Homo sapiens: one gene and its partner. The protein of the gene in region 1 interacts with the protein of each later gene in a pairwise test. Each region holds a gene or a part of one and is shown on either strand. Other genes may lie near its edges.

Region 1 (3,746 bases):
TGGAAAACAGTTTTCCTGACCTTAAGAGGCAGTTCTCAGTGCTCCAGTAATGTTCACCAATCTCTCAGTAACAATTCATGTACTTTGGGAGCTGTATCATATTCCTTTGTTGGTACCTGGTTTTTACATCCCACAATCAAGCCTCAGCAGTCAAGCAATTTCTGACATTTTCTCAGAGACCTAGAGTCTTCCTCAGAGTCTCAGCCAACATGAGGACTGTTGGATTATTAATGAAAATTCCAAAGCAACCACTTAGTAACCAGATCATGTATTATGCCTGTTCTCAAGGGGGAATTTCTAAGTGTTGAAAGATCTCATTTGCACAATATTTTAAAAACCAAATGTTAGCACTCACGGATGAAGAAGGACATGGGAAATTGGTACGGTCCTAAGAAACCCAGGCTGCAGAGTTGCTCTAACTAAAACAGATTAAAATACCTCCCTGTGAGGTTCACAAGTACAAATGAAGATGCCTCCAGAGGACTTCAGCCTGCACCATTTTCAGAGCCAAAGAACTACTTACTGTCTTCAATATATGCCCCATGGCCATCTAAATAATAAATGCTTACATAATTTTTAGAAGTCTGTGTGTCCTATAAGTCAAATTAGAGTTTGGTACAGCTATTAGCTTTAACTAGCCTAACTTGCCCCCCAAAAATGAATTGCTTATGAGATAATATGGCAAATTGTCACTCATCTTCTGTTACAAATATTTTCTTGTGAGTGAGTTTCAAAAAAAAGTTGAGTTTGGTTGCTTTTACTGTTAGTATAAAAATCATAGGGTAGGTGAGTTAACCTTTCTAACTTACAGGTATTTTGTACCCACATGCTCAAAATTCTGCTAGGAAAGGCACAGCCCCTGCCTTCAAGGAGCTTTCAATTTAACTGGGACTAATACAGTTATAAATTATACCTGGGGGATTCCAAGGTCACCTGAATCTCGGTTTACTTAATGCCTAACATAGTGCCTGGCATACGGTATCTGGTAAATTTTTGTTGAGTCATTTTAAAGAATGAATAAAATTAAAGGGTGCATTTACTGGAATGCTAAGTTCTCTGGTATAGAGTTCAATGTCTATGGGTATACCATAGACAGATGTATTCACAAAGGGATTCATAAAATAAGATGGGAGAATGGAGGGCAGCACGGCTTGAGCTGGGTCCTTCAGGGCAAGAAGAGAGGTGATTCCGGGTAAAGAGAAGCAACAAGGCAAAACCTGGCATGGCGGGAGAGGGAGGGACAGGAGGGAAGGATGGGAATGGAAGGCAGTGAGTTCATGTTGGAGGAAAAAGGGTAAATGAGGCAGACAGGGTGGGAAGGCAAGCGGAAAAACCCACTAGCTGAAATGGATATGAATGTTTAGGTTTGAGTATTTATAGACAAGTTGTCAGGACATAAAGTACACACTGAAATCGATCCTGTTCTGCGTATACTCTGCTACCTGCATGTGCTTCCCTTCCCTCCAGGGTTGCCCTTGCCTCCTCGGAAACACTTGAGGTGGGTAGGAGTCATCACACACATTCACTTGCTTTAATAATGGGGAAAGGAGAAAGATTTGAGGAACAGAATCTAAAGCTGAACTGGATCAAAGAAAAATAGGTGACAATTTTGTCTCTTCACAGGGCAGCTGGACACAGCTGCAGAATCATGCCATTCCCTTCTCCCATCACAGAAGCAAATGTGAAATACGAAACTTTTTTGGTTCGTTCAAGAAACAACAGTCTGAGTTACAGAAATATTTTCCTGCATCAAGGCTCACCTTTATAGAAACTGGGTTGGGGGGAGGGGATGTGTAGTGTTATTTTTATAAAATTCCTAAATGTTGTACTAAACAAAATTGAGAAAGAAGTATTTTTTTGAATAGAATAGAAGTTGTAAATGAAATAACTAATCACAACCAGAATCTTTGGTTTTAATGTTGAAAGGAGAGGGGGTTGGTTGCACACTGAGGATGGTTCTCCAATACGATGCCTAGGGAAAGGCACTGGCTTCAGCTGGACGCTCACTCCAGCAGGATTCTTTGCACAATGCTAGCAAAGATCAGTGAGAGGAAGGCTGGAGCCAGGCACTGCTTCATGACAGCTTGAATTTGGCAAGACGGGGGATAAGAGTTAATGATCTCCAGCCACAGAGTGGCTTACCATTTCCTTTATGTTTTCTGTACCTTGTTAACATATCAGTGTATCTGCTGTAGGATGAGTTCTAAGCCTTTCTTTCTTTAGGGAATAAAAAAAAAATCCACCCCATGACTGTCCCATCACTTTACAAATTTATTATTTACACTCCCACTGACTTTAGGAGAGAAAAGCTAACACTTGTTTGCATGCGTGTGACAACGATTCCTTCAAAGGATGTTGGGAATCCAATCTAACAGGGATCTTATATACACAGCAACACGTAACAAAGGGATTTACTGTCAAAACGTTTATTGCAAAATGGAGTCTTAGAACAAAGGAAAGCAAAGAAAAGTTCACATCAAAATGAAATGTATGACACCAACTTGGATTTCTGAATACACTGTGGACTTTGTGCTGGAATATCAAATTCCAACTATAAAATCAGTAACTGAAATAGTCTTACCACACAAGAGTAAAATTTAATCTTCCATACAAACATTATACAAGATATTTGGCATAGGACTTGCTCAGAATAACATTGCAATAGAATAATTGAGAAAAAGTTTTTGTTAAAAAAACAATAAAGTGATAATGCCATCTATTCAAAGCTCACACTCAAAGAATATAAATATTTTCTATTATTTAGTACAAAAATTTTAAGAGTGCAAAAGCAATATGTGCAGTGTATCATATCTGACATTAAAAGATATACTATTCTGCACACAATATAAAATAATTAATGTAGGTGCTTGGAACTCTAGTTTTGAAGTAAATAATCACATGCCAGAAAGCTCCTCACAGGCAACAGAGTGCAAACAAAGGTGGAGTCTGAGAAAACACGGCTAGTCTTCTAGATTTCCTGATGGATACTCATTTTTCATCATAGAAATGCTGTATCTAGAGCTGTCAGGCTATGCTACAATCGAGAGGAGAGAATAGATTTTTATGTCTGGCGATGCTTAACACTTAAACAGGAAAACAGTCTTACTCAAAAGCAGCAAAAGGTGCCTGATTATAGAAAATTTATGCTCTGTTATATATGTGGTATGATGAAACTCTGCTACTTTCAAAAGGCTGCAATAAGTCTAGTACAATAATTTTTTAAAGTATTAATATTTAACTCAGAATAAGTTTTAAAACTGTCTTTCATAAAACTCTTACCATTCCAATGAAAACTCTGAAAAATAAAGTTGTACGCACAGTAATTCTGGGAGGTCATTCTGGATCACTCCTAAACCCTCCCCCGACCCCTAATTCCTTGATTTTTAATGGGGATCAAGTTTGACTACCTTAGCTGGTGTTTAAAAGTCTAACAAATTCACTGCACGTTAAAAATCACTGGTTAAAAACCCACCCTCAACATTTCCAGAGCACCAAAAACAGTGAGCTGTAGGCTTTCAACGTCTTTTCACTGGTTATGTAAAATAGTAAAATGTAATTTTGCTTTCAAAAATGAGTAGAAAAAGGAGGCTTTAAATTAACCTATAGAACTGTAGCTATCTCAATGAGTTTTTTTTCTTTTTTTTTTTTAATTGTGGAATCAGTGTAATGGGAAAGTGACCTGCCCTGGTGCATTTGGCTGTTTCATCAAGTTGCCACCAGCATTTCTAAGGAGAAAGAAACCATTT
Region 2 (3,746 bases), on another chromosome or scaffold:
AGGGAAAAAAGGGATCTCCCATTTGTCTGGTGGTTAATTGTGGGGGCTCTGGAACCTGGATGCCTGAGGTAGCCTTGGGTGAGTCACTTAGTCTGAGACTCAGTTTCCCCATCTGTAAGATAAGGATGATGATGGTCTCTACCTCAGAGTTACTGGGACATCTATAAATGGCCAGCACTGGCTGCATACACATTCCCTGAACAAATCAACCTCTCCTTGGTCAGAACAGAGTAGGGCACAGAGACCCTTTGGGAGTCTGATCCCACTTTAAGAAGATCCTGTGGGAGGCAGAAGAAACAGCCTTCCTTTTCCCCTCCTCCACCCGGCCCCTGTCACTCCCAGGCCCCTACGCCTCCAGAGCCTTCTATGGGCAGGAAAAAGCCAGGGAACTGTGGGCAGGCAGACTAGGAGAAGCGTAGGGTGAGAAGGTAGTGGCTCTGCTAGGCTCCCTTGTCCAGGCATATAGTCTTTGGAAGAGGCACACCCAGACGCACCCACCCCTGCAGAGTCACACGCAAACATCAAGAAATACTCTAGACACAGGTGGACACACAGAGATAGGAAAGATCCAGACAGGACTGGCCCCTGGAAAGACACAGCCCTACACTCATGCCAAGAGACATGCATGGAAAGAGCAGACATAGTGGACACCCAGAGGGCACCCTCCCACAGAGACACTCATGGACAGAGATCAAGGCTGACACACCCACAACACCAAAGACAAGGACACAGGCAGTCACTCAGAGATATCACCACACATGCATAGGCAGAGACCTGGAGAGACACAGCTCCACAGAGAGACCAAGACTCTGAAGAAGTGGGACACACACACACACACGCTACCACACATGACCCACACGGACATACATGGACACATTCACATTCATTCACAGACCCAGCCTCTGGACGACACGCAGTTTCTCTCTCTGTCTCATACACACACACACACACACACACACACACACACACAAACACACACACACAATCACAATATCCAGAGACACAGCCATACCCTCAGGACGACACAATCTGTCTCACACACACATACAGACCCACACAGACACACACACAGACACATTCACAATATCCACAAAGACACAGCCTCATCCTCAGGATGATATGCACTGCCTGTCTCTCACACAGGCCACCTTCCCCCCAGGATGGCCCTCGTGTTCATGCAACTTTCCTACCTCCAACCCACTCACGCCTCTCCCTCCCTGGCCCCGGCCTCTCCTCAGCCCCTCAGCCTCCAGTCAGCCTCTCCTTAGCCCCTCAGCTTCCCCTCAGCCTCTCCTCGGCCGCTCAGCCTCTCCAGGCGCACCTCGGTCCCGGCCTGCACGCCCTCTCCTGCGCCCGCACGCCCTGGACCAGCACCCAGCCCTGCACTCCCCGTACCTGGGCCTGCACGCCGTCTCCCCGAGGCCGCGCCCTCCCCGGGGCCAGGTTCCGGCCCCCGGCACAGGTAGAGGGTGGGCGCGACCCCGCAGCCACACTCACCGGCTCGCCGCTCTGCCAGGACAATGACCGCGCCCGCTAGGCCCGCCCGACGGCAGTGCGCCTGCGCGGACTGCGCCGGACTACGCTTCCCAGAAACCCGCGCGCGCCACCTCCCCCCGGCTTTTTTCAGCCGAGCCCAGCCGAGTGGAGCCGAGCGGAGCCAACTGAGCTCCTCCATCTCACAGAGGACTCCGCGGCCAAGGAGGCTGGGGCGAGAGGGAGGATTGAGGGGGAGGAGGCAGGGAAAGGGAAGGAGAGAGAAGAGACGGAGGGAGGAAGGGTGGAAAGAAAGACGGAGGGAAAGGAGGGGCGAGGAGGAGGGACAGGAGGGAAGGGGGGAGGAGGGAGAAAAGAAGTAGGAGAGGTGGGAAGAAGGATGGAAGGGGAGGAGGGATGGGGAGGAGCGGGGAGAAGAGAGAGGATGGAGAGGGACTTGGGGAGGAGAGCTGGGGAGGAAGAAGAAGAGATGGAGAAGGAGGAGGGGTTGGAAGAAGGATGGAGGGGAAGGAGGAAGGGCTGGGGAGAGACTAAGGGAAAAGAACAGGTCAGAGAGGAGAGGAACCAACAGAAAGAAGAGGGAGCGGGTGGGAGGAGGGAGGGGCAGGGAGGCAGGAAAGGAAGAGAATGGAGACGGCAAGGAGGAGAAGGAAGAAAGGGTGGAAAGGGGGATGAGAAGGTGGAAAGGACTATAAGGAAGAAGAAAAGGGTGGGAAAAGGAGGAAAGAAAGAGGAAGTCGAGTTGGGGAGGGCAGGACAGGCTGAAGAGAGGAAAGAATGGGTAAGGAGAGGGAGGAGGGAGGAAGGAAAACAGAAAAGGACAAGGGATGGGTGGAGGCAGAGAAATGAGGGGGATAAAAGAGGCGTGTCACATCTGCTGCAGACATTTCTGCAGTCCAGCCAATGGACTGGCCTGAGGGACCATCCCAGGCAACTTTAAACCTGATAATCATGCTTATCTTTAAAGAACACTTTTTAAGCATACAGATGTGCAAAGAAGAAAATGAGCATAGGTGTAGAATAAAATGTATAGGAGACTATCGGTTTGGACTGAGTTCCTGCACTAGGCCCAACAGATCAAATCGAAATGGAGCTACTCATGCTGAAGTTCCAGGCCACCAACTCCAACTAAGTTGTTACCTGACCTCCTCTCAGGAGAGAAAGAGAGAGATAATAGCCAAGTCCCAAACAGGCCAGTTTAGCAGGCATGATAAAAGAAATCCCCTTTGCTTTAACCATGATAGGGAAAGTAACTTTGAAATGACCCATCCACTCTTGTTCTCTGTTTCTGCTTTCCTCAGCCCGTTTCTGTGTATGAAGCCATATTCCTCTGCTTGGATCACCAGAACACTAGTTCTATTTTATAGAAGGAGGTGTGGCTGGATTCTAGAATTGCAAATAAAAAACAACTAGATCTTTAAATGTCAATTCCCTATATCTTTAGATATAAGAAAAAAAGCATTAATCCTTGTTGTGAGTTTCCTTTGTTCTGACCCCTGGTCTCCACATTTTATGATTTATAAACAATCTTCACAGCCAAGCTACTTTCCAGATTAGTTGGGTAATACAGACAGGGGAGCTTACACAAGAGGAAAGGTAGGAACCAGATGCCTGGCTGAGACCCTTTTCTATAGTAAACCACAAAGCCAAGTTTAAAAACATTTGCTGAATGTCCAAGTGGCCACAAAACCATCAACAGCAGCTAGCCTTAGGTGGTGATTAATGATGTATTTAAATGAAATATTTTATTCTGAGATAAATGTGGATTTATTCACGTCAGGTTGTAAAACATAATATAGAAATCATACAGAGAGACCTATGTCTCTTAGGTAATTTCACCCAAGGGCAACATCTTGCAATATCACAAGTAGGATACTGACGTCGGTCCATTCAAGAGACAGAACATTTCCATCACAAGGATCTCTTCCGATATTTCCACAAGGATCCTTCATCTTGCCCTTTTATAGCCACACTCACTTTCCTCCAGACTCGATCATTAGTCTATCCTCCATATATACAATTGTGTCATTTCAAGAATGTTATACAAATGGAATCATACAGTATGTGAATGGTGGAATTGGCTTTTTTCATTCAGCACAATTCTCTGGAGATATATTCAAGTTGCTGTATAGAGAGAACTTAATTATCTTGCATAACAGAAACTTTATACTCGTTGAGTAACGTCTTCTCACCTCCCCCAGCCCCTGGAAACCACCATTCTAATTTCTGTTTCTATGAGGTTGACTATTTTA

Evidence for each region. The genes of interacting proteins can lie anywhere in the genome.
Region 2: the proteins of MAP3K20 (region 1) and ZNF71 interact in binary tests that used the Homo sapiens proteins (3 or more experiments, as listed by UniProt).

The regions. Positions count from the first base shown.
Region 1 is NC_000002.12:173,225,811-173,229,556, reverse strand, and holds part of MAP3K20 (mitogen-activated protein kinase kinase kinase 20), read right to left. Parts: exon of another isoform or gene 2,411-3,746; intron 1-2,410. UniProt on the Homo sapiens protein: Stress-activated component of a protein kinase signal transduction cascade that promotes programmed cell death in response to various stress, such as ribosomal stress, osmotic shock and ionizing radiation.
Region 2 is NC_000019.10:56,593,078-56,596,823, reverse strand, and holds the start of ZNF71 (endothelial zinc finger protein induced by tumor necrosis factor alpha), read right to left. Parts: upstream 1,523-3,746; 5' UTR 1,396-1,522; intron 1-1,395. UniProt on the Homo sapiens protein: May be involved in transcriptional regulation.